Linked DNA regions of Homo sapiens. The protein of the gene in region 7 purifies or fractionates together with the protein of the main gene of each other region. This does not show direct contact. Each region holds a gene or a part of one and is shown on either strand. Other genes may lie near its edges.

Region 1 (2,589 bases), on a different chromosome or scaffold from region 7:
TCCTCCGGAGGAAGGGCGACTTTATACCTAGTCCCACAAGACTGCCGATTGTGCTAGCAGTGGTGTGGTCCAGGAATATGGGTCCTGCTGTGTGTAGACCTGAGTGCCCACTCTCTGCACCGTGTCCTTTGCCCTTTACAGGGATTACAGGCCCTCTGATCTAAGGATTGGGGAGGGATTACAGGCCTCCTGGTCTAAGGAGTGGGGCTCCCACCCAATCCTGCATGTGCGGCAGTGCCTGGGAAGGCCGGGCCAGTGCTGTCTCCTCAGCAGTACCAGCCGTACCCTCTTTTATGTTCTACTTCACTTACTTTCTGTTCTCCCTTCATCCTCCATGTCTTCAAATAATAAAGCTCAAGAAGTCCTCGTGCAGACTGTGAACTTCAGGGTGCTTTAGCTCAGGAGTCCCCAACCTCCGGGCCACGGACTAGTACTGGTTTGTGGTCTGTTAGGAACCTGGCCGCACAGCAGGAAGTGAGCTGGGCCGAGAGCATTGCCACCTGAGCTCCGCCTCCTGTCAGATCAGTGGCAGCATTAGATTCTCAGAGGAGCTGAACGCTGGTTTGAACTGCACATGTGAGGGATCTAGGTTGGGCCTAGACACTTTCAAGAAACTATCTTTTTTTTCCTTCTGATTATACCTGCATCCTTATGAGAATCTAATGCCCGATGATCTGAGGTGGAAGTTTCATCCCAAAACCATCCCCCGATGCCATCCGTGAAAAAACTGTCTTCCACATAACCAGTTCCTGGTGCCAAAAAGGTTGGGGACCACTGCTTTAGGTCCCTGTTTCTTAAACTTCAATGTGCACACCACCCCTGGGGCTGTTGGTGCAATGCAGATTCTGACCAGGCCTTGGGTGATGCTGGTCTGGGAGCCACCCTTGGAGTTGTGAGGGTTTAGGCCATAGTCCCTGTCACCATGGGCATCTCATGGCATGGGCCTGCCCTCTCCCTGGTGACTGTGTCATTGTCACTCTGCCATCTGAGGACCCGATGCACATGGCTGAGACAGATAATGCTTGCAAATGCCCTCTTTGGTGCCTGGTGCTATGAGAAGCACTATGTCCAGTATCTTACTTAAACTTCATGACAGCCCTGTGAATTATTGGTCTTTTTGTTACAAATGGGCATCTGAGGTTTCACAATGTTGAGCTGCCTGCCTAAAGCCACACGGCAAGTGGGTGGGCACAGCTGGGGGGCTGCAAAGCCAAGCTGGAGCCCTAGCTCACCCGCATCTTGAAAGGGATCCCCGCAACACAGCTCAGAAGCAGAGGCCCCAGTGCTGTCAGCACCCAAGGCACTACCCCAGCTTAATGAAGGTTCAAAGTGGAAGGATCCTCCTGTATGACCTCGGGCCAGGTCCAGAAAACTCTGTTAGCCTTGCTGTTGTCACCTTACCACTTTGATAATACCATCAGCCTCACAGGATCCGGGAAAAACCTACCACAGGCTACAGTGTCTGGCACCTAATGTGCTCTGTGAACATGCCCCTTACCCCCCAAAGTAAATTGAACTGCTGCCCAATATTCATGCTGCCTTCAGGGGAGCCTTTACCATCAATGTTAGGGAATTGCCCAAGCAACTTGTCAGAGAAAACAAGCCAGGAGCAGCCTGAGGAAGCTGTCCCTTCCCCATGGGAGTGTCAGGCCCTCTGCTGTATGATCAGTTACCCCTTTCAAAAGTGCTCTGTCCTTCCTTTCACATTCTTAGGCACGGGCATCTCTCGTGGGGATTAGAATCCCAGGCCATGTGGTGGGGGTGCTCACCTTCCTGACCTCATCTGCTTTGACTGCCTTCATCCTCGCCTTCGTTTCTCAGAGATTCCTTCACGGCATAGAATTCGCCTGCATTTCTACATGTCCAACTTTGTTTCCAGGTGGTTCTGACAACCATTTGATCCTTGTGGATCTCCGTTCCAAAGGCACAGATGGTGGAAGGGCTGAGAAGGTGCTAGAAGCCTGTTCTATTGCCTGCAACAAGAACACCTGTCCAGGTGAGAATCATCCTTGCCTTCTCCTTCACTCCTCTCCCATCTGCATTTCTTCTGGCCAAAGTTGTAGCTGATGAATATATTGGCTCCGGGGACAGACCTCACATAAAAACTGTAGTGGGGGCTGGGCACGGTGGCTCACGCCTGTAATCCCGGCACTTTGGGAGGCCGAGGCAGGCGGATCACTTGAGGTCAGGAATTCGAGACCAGCCTGGCCAAAATGGTGAAATCCTGTCTCTACTAAAAATAGAAGAATTAGCTGGGCATGGTGGTGCATGCCCGTAATCCCAGCTACTTGGAAGGCTGAGGCAGAAGAGTCGCTTGAACCCGGGAGGCAGAGGTTGCAGTGAGTGGAGATTGTACCACTGCACTCCAGCCTTAGCAACAGAATGAGACTCTGTCTAAAAAAAAAAAAACTGGGCCAGGTGCAGTGGTTCACACCTGTAATCCCAGCACTTTGGGAGGCCGAGGTGGGTGGATCACGAGGTCAGGAGATTGAGAAGGCTAACGCGGTGAAACCCTGTCTCTACTAAAAATGCTGTGGTGGCACACACCACGGTCCCAGCTACTCAGGAGGCTGAGGCAGAAGAATTGCT
Region 2 (2,717 bases), about 17 Mb from region 7:
ATATCCAGACCAGTTGTTTGAAAGCACAGCCGTGACCTGGCCAGACTCCATCTAGTTAAAGGAGACAGCTGGCCGCCTTGCCTCAATATGTACCATTTAAGGGGATGTTCTCTGTGCGCCTGGCCACAGACATCCATTTGAGGACACTACAAGCAATTTTGCACAGACAATATTGAGAATGCAAATTTAGAGAGAGTTATCATTTCTCTCAATGTGTATAATTGTTTTTACAAACAATTGTGTTTTCTTTATGTTAATTTAAACTTACACAGCTTATATTGAAAATTTCCTTTCATCTGAAATTTATTTACAAATATTCGTGTTCATTTTCCTGGTTAAGCATGCTATATTTAGAAACTCATGGGGAGACCTTAGACTTTTGTTTAATCCTTTATGTTTCAACCTTTAAATGTTCCATTCTTATAGTATTACTTTAAATCAATTCTAAAACTGAACTTTGTTTTGTTACATAAATGTCGCAGGCAAAAATAACACTACTTATAGATTTTACCTATTATGGTAAAAAATAGGAACATATTGTCATTCTTTTTTTTTTTTTTTTTTTGAGACAGAGTCTCACTCTGTCGCCAGGCTGGAGTGCGTTGGCACAATCTCGGCTCACTGCAACCTCCGCCTCCTGGGTTCAATCGATTCTCCTGCCTCAGCCTCCTGAGTAGCTGGGACTACAGGTGTGTGCCACCACGCCCAGCCAATTTTTTTTGTATTTTTAGTAGAGACAGGGTTTCACCATGTTGGCCAGGATGGTCTCGATCTCCTGACCTCGTGATCTGCCCGCCTCAGCCTCCCAAAGTGCTGGGATTACAGGCTTGAGCCACCGCGCCCGGCCGGTCATTCATTCTTGCAACAAGCATTTATTGAGCACCTACTGTGTGCTCACAGTAAAGAAACGTGATCTTATCCCAGTAGAGGTAGATATTCTGAAAAAGAATAATTCTTAAACTGCTTAAAACAGGGGTCCCCACCCCCAGGCCACAGACCAGTACCAGTCCGTGGCACTGGTTAGGAACCAGGCCACACAGCAGGGGGTGAGCGGTGGGTGAGTGAGCACAGCTTCATCTGTATTTACAGCTGCTCCCCAGAGCTTGCATTACTGCCTGAGCTCTGCCTCCCGTCAGGTCAGCAGCAGCATTAGAGTCTCATGGGAGTGCGAACCCTGTTGTGAACTGCACATGCGAGGGATCTAGGTTGTGCACTCCTTATGAGAATCTAATGCCTGATGAATCTAATGCCTCATGATCTGAGGTTGAATAGCTTCGTGCCGAAACCATCCCCCACCCCCATCCCGCTACCCCGAGTCCGTGAAAAAATTGTCTTCCATGAAACCGGTCCCTGGTACCAGAAAGGTTGGGGACCACTGGCTTAAAATACCAATAAATTTTTGAACCTTAAAAACTTTGAAGAACAAGGTAAATTGGTGTTTTATTTAATGTCCTACCCTTTAATTTGTTGCATTTTCCTATACTCTTTACACTATTTTATCCCAAACTATGTATATGAGGTGAAAATATATATGAAAAGGGATACTGAAGAATATTTAGTTTAAAATTAATTTCTTACGATCACGAGCACATGGTGGCATAATTACAAAGCTTGGAAGTATTCAAATAGAAAATCAAAGGTGTTTCAATACAGTAGAATCCCAGGACTGCATTTTAAAATCGCCTCACAGATCACACTCGCTGGTGGCAAATATCATCATCGTTGCTAAAGGACAGAAAATACTGATGTGTGTTTTAACTAACTGGTATATTGATCCATGGGAGGCTGCACAGAAGACCCTGCGGCCAGGAGGGGCATTGTCAGTGGCTGCTTCTCCTGAGCTCCACGCCTTCATTGCAGCTGCATGTTCGATACAATACACCTGCTTCACAGCCCCATGGACATCCCTACAGGTACTGTCATGTGAAGCCTTGCCTAGTAGTTCTCTCCAGGGCAAATGAAGCTCACAGTTTTGCAAGGTGGAAACCTCTTATTCACATTTGCTTTGATTCCCCGATGGAGTAGACTGCCTTTGTTCCATACAGGCAAAGTAAGGATATTTTAATATCATCCTACTTCTTATTAGCATTTCATTTGTCTATGTACTGTATTTCATTTGTATGTCTCCTGAAACATCCAAATAGAGAACATAAGAACACTTTATGTACAATCTGGAAAAAAATTACCTGAGAAATCAATTAAAGATTTTTCCCCTTTTCTGATTGCCAGAAATGTTTTTATTAAGTCTAGAGAATGATTAACTGATGAAAATGTTGCATTTACCTCTTCATCAATTTTAGACTTTTTATGTGTAGGGCAGAGGAAATGATATAGATTTACAATTTCTTCACATCAGTTTTTTGTTGTTTTTTGTTGTTTTGTTTTTTGCATCAGATGGGTTTAGATATTAAGTGGAAATGTAAAAGAGAAACAAGTGGCAGGGCTCAGTGGCTCACACCTGTAATCCCAGCACTTTGGGAGGCTGAGGTGGGCGGATTACCTGAGGTCAGGAGTTCGAGAGCAGCCTGGCAGACATGGTAAAACCCTGTCTCCACTAAAAATACAAAAAAATTAGCCGGATGTGGTGGGTCGCGCCTGTAGTCCCAGCTACTCGGGAGGCTGAGGCAGGAGAATCGTTTGAGCCTGGCTGGCAGAGGTTGCAGTGAGCCAAGATACACCACTGCACTCCAGTCTGGGCGGCAGAGGGAGATCCCGTC
Region 3 (3,500 bases), on a different chromosome or scaffold from region 7:
TTGGTTCTATGATGGAGGTTGGAGGCAGTGGGCAAAGAGCCCCTGGGACAGGTGGGGATTGTGGGGAGGGTCAGGCCTTCTTATCTGGAGATGCTGTGCCCCAGCACCTCTACCCTCACTGCCCCCTGCTCTGAATTCTCGCTGCCCACTCTACCCATCTGCCCCGAACATGCTGGGTACATGGGATTGGGTGGTGGGTGGAAGGGAGGGGCAGTGTATGCCAGCTTTGGAACATGTGGCCCCATGGAAACAATTGGTGTTTTTTGTTTTCTACGCAGACATAGTCAACTGTGACCTGAAATCTACACTACGAGTGTTGTACAACCTCTTCACCAAGTACCGTAACGTGGAGTGAGGGGCTGCCCTGGGCCCACCACTGCCCAAGAGTTCTTGCTGTTGGCGTACTGGACCCTCCTCCGAACTGCCTTACCCTGCTTATTCCTGTCTCTTGCACTGTGCTCTCCCACAAGTCCAGCTGCAACCCAGAGATAGTGGAAACTGAAATTAGGAAGGAAATCATCAATAACTCAGTGGGCTGACCCATCCCTCCCAGGCGCTGGGGACCAACCTAGCAATGAAGGTTGGGAAGGTTGTTCCCTTCCCGGTGCCAGGTCCAGATTTCCCTCCATGATTTGGGAACCAGCTTAGGCAAAAGAGTCCCCACAAGATGAAAATAAAGATCCTAGTTACCATTCAAAGGATGCTAACTGTGTGTCAGGCCCCACACTAAGTGCTCTGCTCTGATATACTCAAGGCCATTAATCTTCAGGACTCCCATTGACGTAGGTGTTTCATTCCCCTTTTACAGATGAGGAAACTAAGGCTTGGAGGTTAAATGACTTGCCAGAAGTTGGAATTTTTTTCCTCTTTGAACATAACCTCTCCCTTCTCCCTAAAGGTAACCACTATTCTGAGTCCAATCATCAAGGTTTTGCTTTTCTTTTTAGCTAAGTATGCATTCCTCAATAGTAGACAGTACAACATGTTTATAACAAGCCAATTACATTATGTTCTTTGCATGTTCTAAAGTTGTGTATGTGTGTGCACATCTGAGCACGTGCACATGTACACCTGAGCCAAAAACACGAGAACCCACTGATCTCACCACTGGGGCAAGCTAGGTCAGAGCTTAGTGATTCACACTGAAATTGGCAAATTGGATTTAACCCAATTAATAGTGTGTGTGTGGCAGGAGTCATGTCCCTCACATCCTTTGTACAAATGAAAATTACTCTTAATTCCTTCAGATTTATAATAACTCTGTACTTTGGTTTCAGGGTGACATTTGGGAAGGATTTTGTTTAGAATTAATGGAGTGGCACATTTTGCAGCCTTTTTGCTTGATTGCATGTAATGGAAATGCCCTATATTTTCCTGCAAAATAAGTACTAAATTCATTATCGTTAAGCAAATGTACAATATGCTCAGGCACCGCAGAGAGCTGGGCACGGGCCCATGTGAGCATCACTTTGGAAGTAGGGCTCTTCAACAGGGACCCTTGAACTTTAAAGAAAGGAACTTCTTTTTGCCTTCTAATTGATCATTTAGACTATTCTGGCTAAGTCTGCCCACATGTAATTACCGGCTAATTCAAGCGAGGAAAAATGTAAGTCATTTAGACCAAAGCCAAGCAGTTTCTTTGCGTGGGTTACTCAAGGGCTTGTGGTTACTTGTATCTCCTCTATGTGAACTTGACTTTGAAAGACAGAGCTCTAGTGTGCCAGCCTGCTAAGTCCTGTAAGAATAGGGAAGGGCGGAGGGGGGTGGGCAGTGACTAGGGGACGAGAAGCATGGGGAAAATATTTGCACTCTAAACATACAGAGATAGAGGTGGGGCTTGTGGTACTTAACACTTGTAGCCATCAACTGACTGAGACCTTGGGCTAAATAATCAATTGTGCTGATATTACATCTCGTTATGGAATGTTCCTAAATATGCCAGGTAGACACCAGCCCAAGTACCCTCCTCCAGAAGTCTGTGACTACCTTGTCACTACTTTAGGCCCATTCCACAAAGCCCATCTCTGGTTTGAGAATTCATTTTGATCTGTATCTACACCACCCAAAGTTAGGCCTCCTATAATGTCCAAAACATTCCTTTCAGCCTTTTTATTTCTTACTGTACTGTCTCTTACTGTACTGTCTATCTGCAGTAATTGAGGACCCATAAAATTTAGATAACTACATGTCTTTGCTCTTAGAATTGTCACTCAGCATAATGAGCATTTAACATACAAAGGCAATGTACTGTTTTGTGTTGATCTATGTAAAAGAATACAATTCTTTTTTACATAATTAGTGAAATTTTATTTTTTATTAGGAAACACTAAATAGTGTAATATTTCTTTTGCTTTTAAAAAAATTCCTGGTAGCAAATCAAGATAAATAATTGCTTCATTTTCTTGAGCAATACTGAAGCAGGATGAAGTAAGAGGAATGCATTCATTTAAACATGCTTTGCTTTATGAATTTTGTCTCTTTTTTGGTCTCTTTTTCTTATATTCAAGTTACAAATGTACAAGTATCCTTACTAAGAGTGCTCCTTTTGTATTTTACATATATACAGTATGAAAATACATTGGAACACTAGGAAAGTTTTTAAATAACAGTTCTAATTTATCAGAAAATTGTGTTTTGGGATTGAGTTCTTTGTCTCAGCCCAGAATCCCAGGTCCTGGGCCTGGTTTTCTAATGCTGTCATCTCAGTTCGATATTTTACTTTAGAACCTGGAATCTCCTACTTAATATATGACCATGACTTTGAAAGGCAAAAGAGGAATCAAGAATAAATAAAACAAACTTAATCTTCATCTTTAAAAAAAAGAAAAAAGAAACCAAAATGAGAATCAACACTTCATAGGCTCACTGGGTTTTCTTTTCTTTTCTGTTAATTTAAACTCAGTTATTTTTAATGCTTAATACATACATGGTGCAAAATTTAAAAAGCGCAAATAGGTATCTAGTGGAAAACCTAAGCCTCCCTCTCTCCTCCGGCACCCATTACCTCTCCCTGGAGGCAACTGTTTTGATCCATTTCTTACACACACTGCCAGAGATACTCTAGGCATGTAAAGCACAAACATACATATAAAATCTGCGGGCTTCAAAAAATATAAGTAGGATGTCATCTATACTGTCATACACTTTGTTTTTTATCACTTAATGTTATATCTTGGATATTGTATTACCCTGGGTATTAAAAAGAACTCCTTTCACATTTTAAAATAACAATCTGAGCACTTCATAAATCCAAATGCGTATCTCCAGTCTGCTCGAGCTAGGAAAGGAAAAAAGCCCTAGCCGAAGGAGGAAAGGCTGCCTAGACAATGATTTCAAAAGTAGAGTCTAAAACCTATGGGGTGCAGGACCAGAGGCTGGGGCACATTATCAGAGGCATCCTCATGTGCCTCGAACCGAATGTTTTTAAGTCCTCTTTTGGAACCTTATGGTGAATTGTATGCAGATTGATGAAGGTTTCATTTTTATATATTACCAGGACT
Region 4 (3,500 bases), on a different chromosome or scaffold from region 7:
CAGGCGCGCACCACCACATCCAGCTAATTTTTTGTATTTTAGTAGAAACGGGGTCTCACCATGTTGGCCAGGATGGTCTCAATCTCCTGACCTCGTGATCCACCCACCTCAACCTCCCAAAGTGCTAGGATTACAGGCATGAGCCACCGCGCCTGGCCTGTATTTTTAGTAGAGACGGGGTTTCACCATGTTTGCCAGGCTGGTCTCGAACTCCTGACCTCAGGTGATCCACCCTCCTCAGCCTCCCAAAGTGCTGGGGTTACAGGCATGAGCCACCACGCCCAGACTATTAGTTTTTACCATGTTTTATTGAAATATATGTCATGGGCCGGCCACGGTGGCTCACGCCTGTAATGCCAGCACTTTGGGAGGCCACGGCAGGTGGATCACAAGGTCAGGAGTTTGAGGCCAGCCTGGCCAACATGGCGAAACCCCATCTCTAGTAAAAATACAAAAATTAGCCGGGCGTGGTGGCAGGTGCCTGGAGTCCCAGCTACTCAGGAGGCTGAGGCAGGAGAATGGCTTGAACCCAGGAGGTGGAGATTTCAGTGAGCCAAGATCACGCCACTGCACTCCAGCCTGGCCGACAGAGTGAGACTCCGTCTCAAAAAAAAAAAGAAATACATGTCATGAAGAACACAGATGGTGCAGGTCTAGCTTGTTGATGACTTTTCACAAACTCAGCACAGCCACAGAAACTGCTCCTAGATCAAGAAACAGAATATGCTCTGCACCCAGGAAGCCCCCTCACCTGGGGCTCTCACAGTCACTGGCCCTCAAAGGGTCATTTCTGACCCACTCCCCACCCTCCGCTCCATTGTTGGTTTTCTCGCCGTCTTTTGTTGGTGCGCAAATCTTAACTGTACAATTGGCTGTACACCCTCATCACAATAAAGGCCATCGTCATCTCCCCAGAAAGTTCCTGGGTACCCATTCCCAGCCAATCTGCCCTGCTCCAGGCAACCGCTGATCTGATTTCTGTCACAATGGGTTGCATCTCTGATGCTGAGATTTCCCAGTGTTGCTGAGTAGTATCCGTTGTATGAATGCACAGTTTGCCGGGTCACATGTTAATTCAAGTGTTTGACTTGTTTCCAGTTTGGGGCCGCTATGAACCAAGGCTGCTGTGACCATTCGTGTGCAGGTCTTTGTGTGGACTTGCACTTTCATTTCTCTTGGGGTGGAACGGCCAGGTCACAGGATAGGTGTGTGTTTCACTTGATCAGAGGGAGCACCCGCACCACCTCACAGCTCAACTTCAGCCATTTTCATTTTCTTGCCTTACTGCACTTTTCTTGTTCCTGATTGCTTAAAGGGATGATTAATATTTCAGCATTTCCTATAAGTGTGATATTTGTAGTATTTGTAAGGATGATGGTTTGGGGGTTTTTTTGTTCTTTGTTTTTTGGTGGTGGTTTTTTTTTTTGAGACGACGTCTAGCTCTGTTGCTCAGGCTACAGTGGTGTGATCTCGGCTCACTCCAGTCTCTCCCTCCTGGTTCAAGCGATTCTCCTGCCTCAGTCTCCTGAATAGCTGGGATTACAGGCATACACCACCATGTTCAGCTAAGTTTTGTATTTTTAGTAGAAATGGGGTTTCACCATGTTGGTCAGGCTGGTCTCAAACTCCTGACCTCAAGCGATTCCCCGCCTCGGCCTCCCAAAGTGCTGGGATTACAGGCTTGAGCCACCACGCCCAGCCAGAATGGTGTTTTATAGATGCCCTTTATCAAGTTAGTGAAGTTCCCTTGCATTCCCCCTCTGCTAAGAGTTTTAGCGTGAATAGGTGATTTCTGAAACACTTGATCTACATCTGTTGGGTTGAGCAAGATTGCTAGATTTAAAAAATCAAAACATAGCAGTAGGCAGAGAGTTCTTAGAGGTTTTTTTTAATCTCTTAATATGGTGAATTTCAATGATTTTTTTCTGTTAATATCAAACCAACTTTTTATTTACAGATGTATTTATTCTGTAAATAAAAAACCTACCGTTTTTAACATTGCAGGATTTGGTTTGCTGATGTTTTCTTCTTTTTTTTTAAAGAGACAGGGTCAGTGGGTCGTCGTGGCTCACGCCTGTAATCCCAACACTTTGGGAGGCTGAGGCGGGCAGATCACTTGAGCCCAGGAGTTCAAGAGCAGCCTGGACAACATGGGGAAACCCTGTCTCTACAAAAAATACAAAAAATTAGCTGGGTGTGTTGGCATGTACCTGTAGTCCCAGCTACTCCAGAGGCTGAGGTGGGAGGATTGCTTGAGCCCAGAGGCAGAGGTTGCAGTGAACTGAGATCGTGCCACTGCACTCCAGCCTAGGTGACAGAGTGAGACCATGTCTTTAAAAAAAAAAAAAAAAAAAAACCTCCTGATTTCAAGCAATCTTCCTCCCACCTTGGTCTCCCAAAGTGCTGGGGTGTGTGAGTTGTGCCCGGCCTGCTGATATTTCGTGTGGGATTTCTGCATCTGCATGTGTGTGTGAATGAGGCGTATGGGTTTTCCCATGTGCCTTTCTCATCAGGTTTCCGTACCAAGGCTCTGTAGGCCCCATAAGGTGGCTTGGGAAGTGTTCCCCTTTCTTCCTTCTGCAGGAAGAGTTTGCTTCAGGCTGGAATTCTCTTGTGCTTGCATTTTGGTAGAACCCACTGGCAACACTCTCTATGCCAGGGGGTTGTTTCTGTAGGAAGATTTGTGGCCACTGTCCCCTCTCAGGTCCATTGCTCTGTTTTTTGTTTGTTTGAGACGGAGTTTCGCTTTTGTAGCCCAGGCTGGAGTGCAGTGGCTTGATCTTGGCTCACTGCAACCTCCGCCTCCCAGGTTCAAGCGATTCTCCTGCCTCAGCCTCCTGAGTAGCTGGGATTACAGGCATGGGCCACCATGCCCAGCCAATTTTGTATTTTTAGTAGAAACGGTTTCTCCATGTTGGTCAGGCTGGTCTTGAACTCCCGAACTCAGGTAATCCATCCGCCTCGGCCTTCCAAAGTGCTGGGATTATAGGCTTGAGCCACCGCGTCCAGCTGTTTAGTTGTTTTTTTGTTTTTTGTTTTTTGAGACGGAGTTTCACTCTTGTCGCCCAGGCTGGGGTGCAATGGTGCAATCTTGGCTCACTGCAACCTCCATCTCCCGGGTTCAAGTGATTCTCCTACCTCAGCCTTCCGAGTAGCTGGGACTACAGACACCCGCCACCACGCCTGGCTAATTTTTTGTATTTTTGGTAGAGGCGGGGTTTCACCGTGTCAGCCAGGATGGTCTCGATCTCCTGACCTCTTGATCCGCCTGCCTCGGCCTCTCAAAGTGCTGGGATTACAGGAGTAAGCCACTGTGCCCGGCCTATGCCCTTTTAAAAAAGCAACCATGCCAGGGGGTTGTCTGTTTCTATTCGTCTTTTTCAAACACCAATTTCCAGCTTTGTTCATCTTTTCTTTGGGTTAGCTTTTAATTTTATTAATTTTACTTGTCATTATTTCCTATTTTCTTCCTGGTAATTTGGCTTGCAGTTCTATCTTTT
Region 5 (3,500 bases), on a different chromosome or scaffold from region 7:
TTAAGGACTGGGCTTGCAAGTTGGTGTATCATAATTTCTGTCATATGCTGTTGGGCAAGTACAGAGCCCTCTCAGATTCAAGGGCGGGAGACTAGACCCTGCTCCTTGATGGGAAATGTGTTAAGAGTCTGTGGCTATCTTTTAGTTACCATGCCCGTTTATTGTTGAGTCAGTGACGCTCTTCAGCGTTTTTATTTGGGGGTCAATAAAGATCCTCTGGCAGAATGGCAAATGGATGCTGCCTTCTAGCCACAATTTTTTAAAGACCTAGAATAAAGGTAGTCATGATCATCTTTTTGAGTAGAAGCAGGACTAGCTTTAGGGGAAAAGTTGCCATGGTGATGATATTCTCTGTCCTCCCCTGGACTGCTAGTCATATGAGAACTGAGGTTCCTGAGTAAAAACAGGCCAAAGAATCTAATCTTGTGGGATAAACGTCATAAGACCAGGAGTTGGCAAAGTTTTTCTGCAAAGGGCCAAATCGTAAATATTTTAGGCAGTGCTAGCACATGTAGTCTCTGTTGCTGCGGTATCTTACAGTTCTGTAAGTTACGGTAATGTCTGTCACAGGTTAGCAGGGCTGTATTCTCTTCTGAGGCTCTAGGGGAGAATCTGTTCCCGTGCCTTTTCCGGTTTCCAGAGGCAGCCCACATTCCTTCACTATTGGCCTCTTCACCTTCAATGTCAGCAACAAAATGTTGCTCTGACCCTGCTTCTGCTGTCTCCCTCTTGCATTTTTAAGGGCCCCATGATTACAATGGGCCAATTTAAATAATCCAGGATAATTTCCCCATGTTAAGGTCAGCTGATGAGCAACCTGAATGCTATCTGCAAATTTACTTCCCCTTTGCCATATAAACTCACATATTCAAAGGATTAGGATGTAGACATCTTTAGGGGGCCATTATTCTGCCTACCACGCCATTCTTAACTCACAGGCCATAGAAAAACAGCCTATGTGCTGTGTTTTGTCAACCTCTCAGCTATATAATACTGTACTTGATTTCTGCTGTAGTTCATTTTGTGCTGCTATAACAGAATACCAGAGACTGGCTAATTTATAAACAATAGAAATTTGTTTCTCACAGGTCTGGAGGCTGGGAAGTCCAATACTGAGGGGCTGGCATCTGGCAAGGGCTTTCTTGCTGCATCATCCCATGGCAGAAGGGTGGAAGGGCAAGAGAGCATATTTGAGAGAGAGCAATAGAGGGCCAAATTTGCTAATATAATAAACCCATTCTCAAGATAATGAGCACACTCTAGCAATGATGACGTTAATCCGTTTGTGAGGACAGAGCCCTTATGACCTAATCACCTCTTAAAGGTCTCACCTGTCAATACTCCTATACTGGGGATTAAGCTTTCAACACATGAACTTTAGGGAACACATTTAAACCATAGCAATTTCCAAATTAAGTTTATGTCATAGTTGATGTAGTGTTCACAAAGCAGTTAGATTTAGCTCCTTAGATCTTCAAATAGGAGGGAGCACATAGAACTCTTTCTATCCCCCTCATCCTGTGAGGTTGGCATATTTTCATCCATAGTAGAAGGCGTGCAAGAAGATGTGTGAATGTTATCAAAACTAATTTTCACAACATGTCAACTTGAAAAACTTTATTTTTATTTTCCTTTTCTTTAAAATTTTTTTTAGAGACGGGGTCTTGCTATGTTGCCCAGGCTGGACTAGAACTCCTGGGCTCAAACAATCCCCTTGCCTCAGTCTCCCAAGTAGCTGGGACTGTGGGCATGAGCCACCATGCCCAGCCTGTTTTTAAATTTTCATTAGGTATAATTGGCTCTTTTTTTTTTTTTTTTTTTTTTTTGAGACAGAGTTTCACTTTTGTTGCCCAGGCTGGAGTGCAATGGTGCGATCCCAGCTCACTGCAAGCTCCGCCTCCCGGGTTCAAGTGATTCTCCTGCCTCAGCCTCCCGAGTAGCTGGGATTACAGGCATGCACCACCACACCTGGCTAATTTTGTATTTTTTAGTAGAGATGGGGTTTCTCCATGTTAGGCTGGTCTAGAACTCCAGACCTCAGGTGATCAGCCCACCTTGGCCTCTCAAAGTGCTGGGATTACAGGCGTGAGCCACCGCGCCCAGCCTTAATTGGCTCTTTTAAGAAAACAATTTCATTGAGTATCTGATAGCAGGAGAAGAGAGAAGGATAATTATTCATGTTCCTTATTTGTAATTTTAAAATATTTCATTTTGGGATGAATAAATTTACAGACAATTCTGCCATAATGTGACATATGTATTCCTAAAAATTACCACGCTATGCAAAATCAGGCAATCCAAAACCACAGGGCTTATGAGAAAAATGGGGTTAGGGACATAACATTCAAAAACTTCCTCAGTGACCCATTAAAAAATCATAGGAATGTTATATAGATTGAGCATCCCTTATCAGAAATGCCTGGGACAACAAGTATTTCAGATTTTTTTTTTTTTTTTTTTTTTTTTTGCATTTTGGAATATTTCTATTGTACTTACTGGTTGGACATTCCAAATCTCCAAAAATCCAAAATCCACAATGCTCCAATGACCATTTCCTTTGAGCATGATGTCGACACTCAGAAAGTTTCGGATTTCAGAATTTCGGATTAGGGTTCCTATCAAAATGGTAAAACACTGACATGTATTACATGCTCAAAAAATACTGGCTGGGTGCAATGGCTCACGTCTGTAATCCCAGCACTTTGGGAGGCTGAGGTGGGCGGATCACTTGAGGTCAGGAGTTCAAAACCAGCCTGGCCAACATGGCAAAACCTCCCTCCACTAAAAATACAACAAATTAGCCAGGCGTGGTGGTGCATGCCTGTAATCCGAGCTACTCGGGAGGCTGAGGCAGGATAATCACTTGAACCTGGGTGGCAGAGGTCGGAGTGAGCTGAGATGTCACCACTGCCCTCCAGCCTGGGCAACAGAGTGAGACTCTGTCTTTAAAAAAAAAAAAAAAATTACATAAATATTATGACAGAGATGGAACTTTCCATTGAAAAATGCCTGAGGTTTAGGGTTCTCTGAAATGACATGAAAAGTTGTGACACCAAATGTGAATGAGTGTGGCTCATTGTCCTCGAGGTGTGTACATGTGTATGTTTGTGTATTTCTAAGTGGCTCCATTCAGCTGGGTACACTGCAGTTTTCTGCAGTCTCGGGATAAGAGGTTGTGCATAAGAAAACATGAAATTCATGCTATGCTCAAATTGTTCCAAATAATATCAATCATTGGAACAAATTTGCCTTTTCAAAACATAGCAGAGCTGACCATCTTCTTGGTTTGGACGCAGAGCTCTGGGAAGGACATGCCTGAGCACACAGCACTATTTTCTGTTTCTTCCCACCAAAGGAATATGCCAGGGATGAGCTGGCTCTCCCTCTCATGTTGGACATCCAGAATTCTGTACCTGGAAATACAGAAACTTCCAGACATGCAATTTTCAAAAACTTAGCTGCTATTTACTCTTTCTCCAGAAGCTACGCAAGGATGCCAA
Region 6 (3,500 bases), on a different chromosome or scaffold from region 7:
GCACAGCCAGGGCTCCCGCATCACGGGGACAAACCCTGTTCTTTGGGGCAGGAGATGAATTTGTTGATTTGTGTGCAGGGATCCCAACACACTATGTATTGTGAGCATCTAAATGTGAGAACCCATAGTGCATCCTAGCGAGATGCTCACGCTGTGAGATGCCCTCAGAACCAAAGCCCACTGAGGAAGTTGCAATTCCCAGCCCCCTCCTCATGTTCTCTCAGAGCGCAAGCAGGGAGACCGGCCGGAATCACCATCCCTGTTGAAGCTGCAGCTTTCTTTCTCTTTTCACCCTTACGCAGAATTGAATGCATGTGCACAGCATGGGCGTGCGAGGCAACGCCATCCAGGCGGCCTTTGTCCAGTCCATGGAAACTGACACAGGCCTTACTGTCAGCCCTCTTTCTAGCTGCCTCTGATGGGTCTTAAAGAGTAAATTGTTCTCTGACCTTTGACCAGATCTGTCAGCCACAGAAAAACAGCCCCTTCCTTCCTGCTACCCCACAGAGATGTGTCCGCCACAGCCTGCGTCTCACAGATAGTCTTAGACACCTGGCCACACCCCAAATTCCCCGACTTCAAAGGATCTTTTCACACCAAAGATGCAATTCCTGGGGCCAAAGCTCAAATCTTAAACCATAGGGTTCCTAGTTTTTCAAAAAGATCTATTGTCAAATTACAGAACACTCCAAAGAGAAGTGACAGATGACTGTACTAAGGCAATGGGTGTTCGCAGACAATATCTTTCAGGCAGGTTTGACCCCCATCTCCTCAGAAGGGTTTAGGTAGCACCTAGCTCCGTTCCAGGCTCAGTGAGGGACACCATTACAAAACAAATGACCAGCCACCCTATCATCATTAATTTGGTGCTATTCTAGGTCAATAGAATTTAATTAGCAATAAATTTGAGTTTCTTCAATGCTTGAGGCCCAAGGATTGAAAAGTAAACTAATGAATGTGGCTATGAACTTTAATCCCAATTTTGCCATTAGATACCTTGCTGACTCCCAAGCAAGACTTTCTATCTTGATTTTTCTTATATATGAAATCAGGAGAAAAGAGATCTGTACAAGTGCATAAAAAACGAGAGAGGAAAAAAAGAACATTGAGATGCTCGCTGGCAAGGTCACTTAATTTTTCTACCCTGCAATGTGCTCTATTATAAACCTAACAGGGAGAAAGTGAGAACACTGCCTTCATTTGCATAACTACAGGGCATCTCAGGGCTCATTTTTCTAATCAGTTTGGCTCCAGGCACCAGGTAAATGGCACAGCCGAGCATGTCGCAGAAATACTAAATAACCACTTACAAGTGGAGACAGAGGAAATAGTGAGAAGGATTCAGATCTCGAGTCAAGTAGGAGCAGCTGGCAACCTGTCCCAGTGACAAAGTGCTGCTTACAGAAGGCGCTCTGCACTAAGCCAGTCCCTATGTACCATGTCACAACTGAGAAACCAGCCCTCTGAGCTCCAGCTAGCATGCTGGCTGGTAAAATATGGAGCCAGACTGTCCTGCTGGTACCTCAGGAGTGGCTGTGAGGCCCATCAAGGTTAAACATGAGCAGAAAATACATCTCAGGACTCCACAATCACTAAGCCAAAGGGAAAAGTCAAGCTGGGAACTGCATCAGGCAAAGCTGCCTCCCATTTTATTTCTAGATAAGATAGCTGCAAAGACAAAACCTACATACCTCCCTCACAATTGGCCCACAAAGAACTTCCGTGTTGGGCCCCCAGACCTGTACCCTAAAACAGTTCTGTTGAATTTCACCCTGGCAATGTAAATTGACATCTGATCTTCTCAGGTGCGGGACAAAGGACAAAACTCAAAGTCATCCCTCTGCTCGCCTGAGACGAATGCATACCTGATTGCTTCACGTGCCTTGTGTTTATGTTATCTTCTATAAAAATGCAGATTCAGTGAGCCAGACTAAGACACAAGTGACTTTTCCTCTACCCTAAACAAACATGTAAATTGTGTATTCGGTTGATCAAAGACTGATCAACCAAAGGCTGATCAAAGACCCAAAAGAATGCAATCGTTTGTCTCTTATCTACCTACACCTTTAAAAAATTTCTTCCTCTTCCCCCAGTATCCACTCCTTCCCCTTTAAATATTAAGGCCCTCAAAATCATCTTTGAGGAAAGGCATAGACCTGCCTCCCAGGTGTGCATCCTTAACGTCGGCAAAATAAACTTTCTAAATTGTTGACACCTGTCTCAGACACTTTTGGTTTACAGTGGGTTTGGGAAACTGGGAGTGTGAAGCCAGGTGAGAAATAATTATCACATCTCTTTGTTAACAGAAGAAAACAAACTCTGTAAAATACTTAAAGAGGTTTATTCTGAGCCAGTGTAAGTGACCATGGGCCAGGGAACAGTCTCATGAGGTCCTGAGAAAGCTCGCCCTAGGTGGTCCAGTTACTGTTTGGTTTTACACATTTCAGAGAGACAGGAGTTACAAGCAAAGACATAACTCAATACACAGAAGGTATACCTTGGTTCAGCCTAAACAGGTGGGATATCTTGAAGGGGCTTGGAGGGTGGGGGTGCTTACAGGTCTTAGGTAGATTCAAAGATATTTTTATTGCCAGTTGATTGAAAGAGTTAAGTTTTGCCTAAAGACTTGAAGTCAGTAGAAAGAAATGCTTAAGACAAAGGACAGTTGTGGAGGCCAAGGTTCTTGTTATGTAGATGAAGCCTCCAGGTAGAAGCCTTTAGAGAAAATAGATGGTAAATATCTCTTTTCAGACCTTAAATTTGCCAGACTCTCATTTAATCTCTCCTAGATCTTGGAAAGGCCTAGAAAGGGAAGGCTTGATTGCATTAATGGAAATGCTCTACAGATGTAAGTATCTCCCACAAGAGATGGTTTTGCAGGGCCATTTCAAAATATGTCAAAGAAATATACTTCAGGGTAAAATATTTTTATTTTCTTCAGGGTTTGCTACCTGTTATGTGACGCTATACCAGAGGCAGGAATTTGCTACCTTACTGCCACAAAGAGTCTGTTTTGTCAGTCTTATATCTCTATTTCAATGTTAATGCCGATCTGCTGTGCCTAAACTCCAACAGCAAGGGGGGGTATAACAAAGCATGTCTGAACTCCATTCCCATCACGGCTGGGAATTCAGTTTTCAGGCTTCTCTGGGGTCCTCTTGATGAAGAGCGGGCTTGTTCAGTCAGTTGGGGGGCTTAGGATTTTACCTTGTGTTTACACATCAATAGGAAACATCAAGCCACTAAAAATATTAGGAACCTTCTACAAGGTCACTAAGCACTCTGCTAGCTCCATACACCACACTGCAGCTCGTCCTTGAGCAGCAGAACTTCATTGTCAGTCATTTTGGTTCTGGAGTCCAGCTGTCCGGCTTCCTCATCCCAGCTCGGCTGTGGATGAGCTTTGTGAGCCGACACAGCTAATTCCCTGGCTGTGCCTCTGTGTCCTCCTCTATAAGCTGTGGGTGATGATGGTGACATCACTTCACAGGTTGTAGTGA
Region 7 (3,500 bases):
GTATGAGCTACTGAAATAGAATAAGCTTTGAAATCTTAAAATAACTTAATATATCTATATAAAAACATGTACACAATAAATATATACATTTGTCAATTTAAAAAATAAAAATTAAAAAAAAATTTTTTTCAAGACATAAAGTGAGGCCGGGTATGGTGGCTCACACCTGTAATCAAGCACTTTGGGAGGCTGAGGCAGGCAGATGGCCTGAGCTCAGGAGTTTGAGATCAGCATGGGCAACATGGTGAAACCCTGCCTCTACTAAAAATACGAAAAATCAGCCGGGCATGGTGGTGTGTGCCTATGGTCCCAGCTATTTGGGAGGCTGAAGTGGGAGGATCTCTTGAGCCCAGGAGGTGGAGGTTGCAGTAAGCTGAGATCGAACCACTGCATTCCAACCAGGTGACACAGTGAGTCCCAGTATCAAGGAAAAAAGAAAAAAAGGCATAAAGTGATATTAAAATATAACTTGGCCGGGCACGATGGCTCACGTCTGTAATCCTAACACTTTGAGAGGCCGAGGCAGGTGGATCACCTGAGTCCAGGAGCTCAAGACCAACCTGGGCAACATGGTGAAACCCCGTCTCTGCTAAAAATACAAAAATTAGCCTGGCTGCAATGGCACATGCCTATAGTTGCAGCTATTCAGAAGGCTGAGGTGGGAGGATTGCTTGAGCCCCAGAAGCAGAGGTTGCAGTGAGTTGAGATGGTGCCATAGCACTCCAGCCTGGGCAACAGAGCCAGACACTGTCTTTAACAAATACATTTTAAAAAATAATAAGTCAAAGGTATTACACTGGGATTGGCTGCATGTCTTCAAGTAGAGAAAGCAATCAATACTCCATTGATTTTAAAAAGCATTCTATTGTGTGTTTTTGACTTTTTTTTTTTTGAGATCACTTCGGCTCACTGCAATCTCTACCTCCTGGGCTCAAGCCATCCTCCCACCTCAGCCTCCTAAGTAGCTGGAATTACAGGTGTGTGCCACCACGCCCCACCCATTTTTTGTAATTTTAGGAGAGGTGAGTTTCACTATGTCGTCCAGGCTGGTCTTGAACTCCTGGATGCAAGCAATCTGCCCACCTCAGCCTCCCAAAGTGCTGGAATTATAGGCATGAGTCACTGTGCCCAGCCTATTTTGTGTAGTTAGTCTTTGAATAAATTTTGTAAAAATTTTAGGTTTTTTAAAATTTAATTTTATTATTATCTTTTATTTTTGTAGAGACAGGGTCTCACTATATTGCCCAGGCTGTTCTCGAACTCCTGGGCTCAAGCAACCTCCTACCTCAGGCTCCCAAAGTACTGGGATTACAGGCATGAGCTACCTCGCCCAGCCTTAAGCTTTTATATTGAGCTTTTTTAATCTATTAAGGATTACATTTAATGTAAGTGTGGCTGTGACATGTTCTTCAAGTTGCTACACAGTTATTCCTAAACCAAACTGATAAAAAAAGTTAATTTATTATATTGAACATCCATTTTGATTCACTACCCTGAATTGCAATTTTATGCCAGTATCTTATTGTTAACTTATGCTTTAGGATATGTTTTAATATTACTTACCTCTTTTGCACCAGATTCTTTGAGCAGTTTTATTATAGGTGAGATGGTATTGCCTCTGACAATTGAATCATCTACAAGAACAATTCTTTTGCCTTTAAAGTTGTCTGACAATACTCCAAATTTTTTTGCAACACCAAGTTGTCTTAACCTCATGTTTGGCTGAATGAAGGTTCTCCCTACATACCGGTTTTTACACAGCACCTCCACATATGGAAGTCCACACTGATAGAGAAGAAATGAAAGGATAATGAGGAGTAATATACAGAATAGGCAAATATTTTCTCTAGGTTGTGTTGCCGCCACAATATTCAAGTAAAATTTCAAAATAATTTTCCTTTATTATTTGGAAAAAAGGCAAAAAGAAAAACCACTAAACAAAATATACTTGGTGGAAAAACCAATTCATTTTGTGAGGACTCATAATGTTTTTGTCTTAAACATTATTCCTCTGTTTTGAAAGATAACAGTAAGCATATGAAGACATGACAAAGATTAAATCACTGTCAGAAAAATTCATTATCAAAATGATAATTTTTAAAGAAATGAATTAAAATAAATAAATAAAAACCAGTAGACCAATGAGATACTTTTTAGGGATAGGAAGTAATTAACCCATTTATCAAGGTAATCTTTTCTAAAATGTATGCATATTAATTCTTTTAGAAGTTAATAAAGTATCCAAGGTAGTGAATATTGGATGTTATACCCCAGGATTACTACAGTTACACCATCTACCTGGTTATGAAAATAAAGCGTAACACTGACAACATCATGCTAAATGAACATAAACAGCTTTATTATTACCCATACTTAGTAGCAAGCAAATATTCCAGTGACTTGTGAAGATAATTCAAGACGTTTATTTTAATATTAAGTAAATTTTTCCACTGAATATATAGTTGATGAACACCATGGGTTTGAAGTACATGAGTCTACTTATAGGTGGGTTTTCTTCCATCTCTGCCACCCCTGGGACAGCAAGTCCAGCCCCTTTTCCTCTTCCCTCCTCAGCCTACTCAACGTGAAGACAACAATGAGGATGAAGACCTTTATGAAGATCCACTTTCACATAAGGAATAGTAAATATATTTTCTCCTCCTTATGATTTTCTTCAAAGCATTTACTTTTCTCTAGCTTACGTTATTGCAAGAATACAGCATATAATACATATACAAAATATGTTAATCAACTGTTTATGTTATTGGTCAGGCTTCCAGTCAACAGTAGGTTATCAGTATTTAAGTTTGGGGGCATTAAAATGCATACACAGATTTGACTGTGCAGAGGGTTGGCACCTTTAACTCCCAAATTGTTCAAGGGTCAACTGTATATTCATGATGTTATCTTTTTAAAAAGAAGGGTGCCAATTTCTGAACGCTTTAGTGAACGTTTTTTTCTTTTCAGTGAACCTTTTAGTGGTTTTCACTAAAATAGTGCCATTGGATAAAAAGCCTGGAAAATAAAAAACGCTTGTAAACAAACCAACATTAACCACCAAAGCTTCCTTTCTCCTTAGAAATGTTGATGAGTTTCTCTTTATAGGCAAGGGTTTCTTATTCCACAGCTGGGAGAGCAATTCACTGCATGTTAATTAAGAGAAAATACCTTTCCTGCGTAAGCAAGAGCAGCAGGCGTAGCAGATTCTGGAACAGTGCTAACCAAATCTGCATCCACAGGTGCTTCAATCGCTAGCTGCTGGCCACAACGGTATCTTACTGTATAAACCATTTGGTCTGGTGTGTTTGGAAAAGGAGAGAGAGTATTTTTACTTAGCATGATATAACAGTGTTATTCTAAAAAACTAGTGCTAGAATTCTACAGATTGAGTATAAAAAGAAATGCAATATATACAAAAATATGAATGTGAAAATACACAAACTGGGGAACTCAACTGTGTGGTTTTAAAAAAAAAATCGACCTTCATATAGATCTAGAAA

What was found.
Region 1: the proteins of PPAT (region 7) and SHMT1 fractionate together in Homo sapiens (co-fractionation; one large-scale study listed by BioGRID). This does not show direct contact.
Region 2: the proteins of PPAT (region 7) and FAM114A1 fractionate together in Homo sapiens (co-fractionation; one large-scale study listed by BioGRID). This does not show direct contact.
Region 3: the proteins of PPAT (region 7) and PARVA fractionate together in Homo sapiens (co-fractionation; one large-scale study listed by BioGRID). This does not show direct contact.
Region 4: the proteins of PPAT (region 7) and G6PD purify together in Homo sapiens (affinity purification with mass spectrometry, with the first as the bait; one large-scale study listed by BioGRID). This does not show direct contact.
Region 5: the proteins of PPAT (region 7) and PRPS2 fractionate together in Homo sapiens (co-fractionation; one large-scale study listed by BioGRID). This does not show direct contact.
Region 6: the proteins of PPAT (region 7) and FAM167A purify together in Homo sapiens (co-immunoprecipitation; one large-scale study listed by IntAct). This does not show direct contact.

Annotation. Positions count from the first base shown.
Region 1 is NC_000017.11:18,329,962-18,332,550, reverse strand, and holds part of SHMT1 (serine hydroxymethyltransferase, cytosolic), read left to right. Parts: intron 1-1,879; coding exon 1,880-1,996; intron 1,997-2,589. UniProt on the Homo sapiens protein: Interconversion of serine and glycine.
Region 2 is NC_000004.12:38,943,523-38,946,239, forward strand, and holds the end of FAM114A1 (protein NOXP20), read left to right. Parts: coding exon 1-35; 3' UTR 36-2,217; downstream 2,218-2,717. UniProt on the Homo sapiens protein: May play a role in neuronal cell development.
Region 3 is NC_000011.10:12,527,571-12,531,070, forward strand, and holds part of PARVA (alpha-parvin), read left to right. Parts: intron 1-278; coding exon 279-355; 3' UTR 356-3,500. UniProt on the Homo sapiens protein: Plays a role in sarcomere organization and in smooth muscle cell contraction. Required for normal development of the embryonic cardiovascular system, and for normal septation of the heart outflow tract.
Region 4 is NC_000023.11:154,536,847-154,540,346, reverse strand, and holds part of G6PD (glucose-6-phosphate 1-dehydrogenase), read left to right. Parts: intron 1-3,500. UniProt on the Homo sapiens protein: Catalyzes the rate-limiting step of the oxidative pentose-phosphate pathway, which represents a route for the dissimilation of carbohydrates besides glycolysis.
Region 5 is NC_000023.11:12,794,412-12,797,911, forward strand, and holds part of PRPS2 (ribose-phosphate pyrophosphokinase 2), read left to right. Parts: intron 1-3,500. UniProt on the Homo sapiens protein: Catalyzes the synthesis of phosphoribosylpyrophosphate (PRPP) that is essential for nucleotide synthesis.
Region 6 is NC_000008.11:11,425,254-11,428,753, reverse strand, and holds part of FAM167A (protein FAM167A), read left to right. Parts: intron 1-3,500.
Region 7 is NC_000004.12:56,397,616-56,401,115, forward strand, and holds part of PPAT (amidophosphoribosyltransferase), read right to left. Parts: intron 3,297-3,500; coding exon 3,169-3,296; intron 1,786-3,168; coding exon 1,564-1,785; intron 1-1,563. UniProt on the Homo sapiens protein: Catalyzes the formation of phosphoribosylamine from phosphoribosylpyrophosphate (PRPP) and glutamine.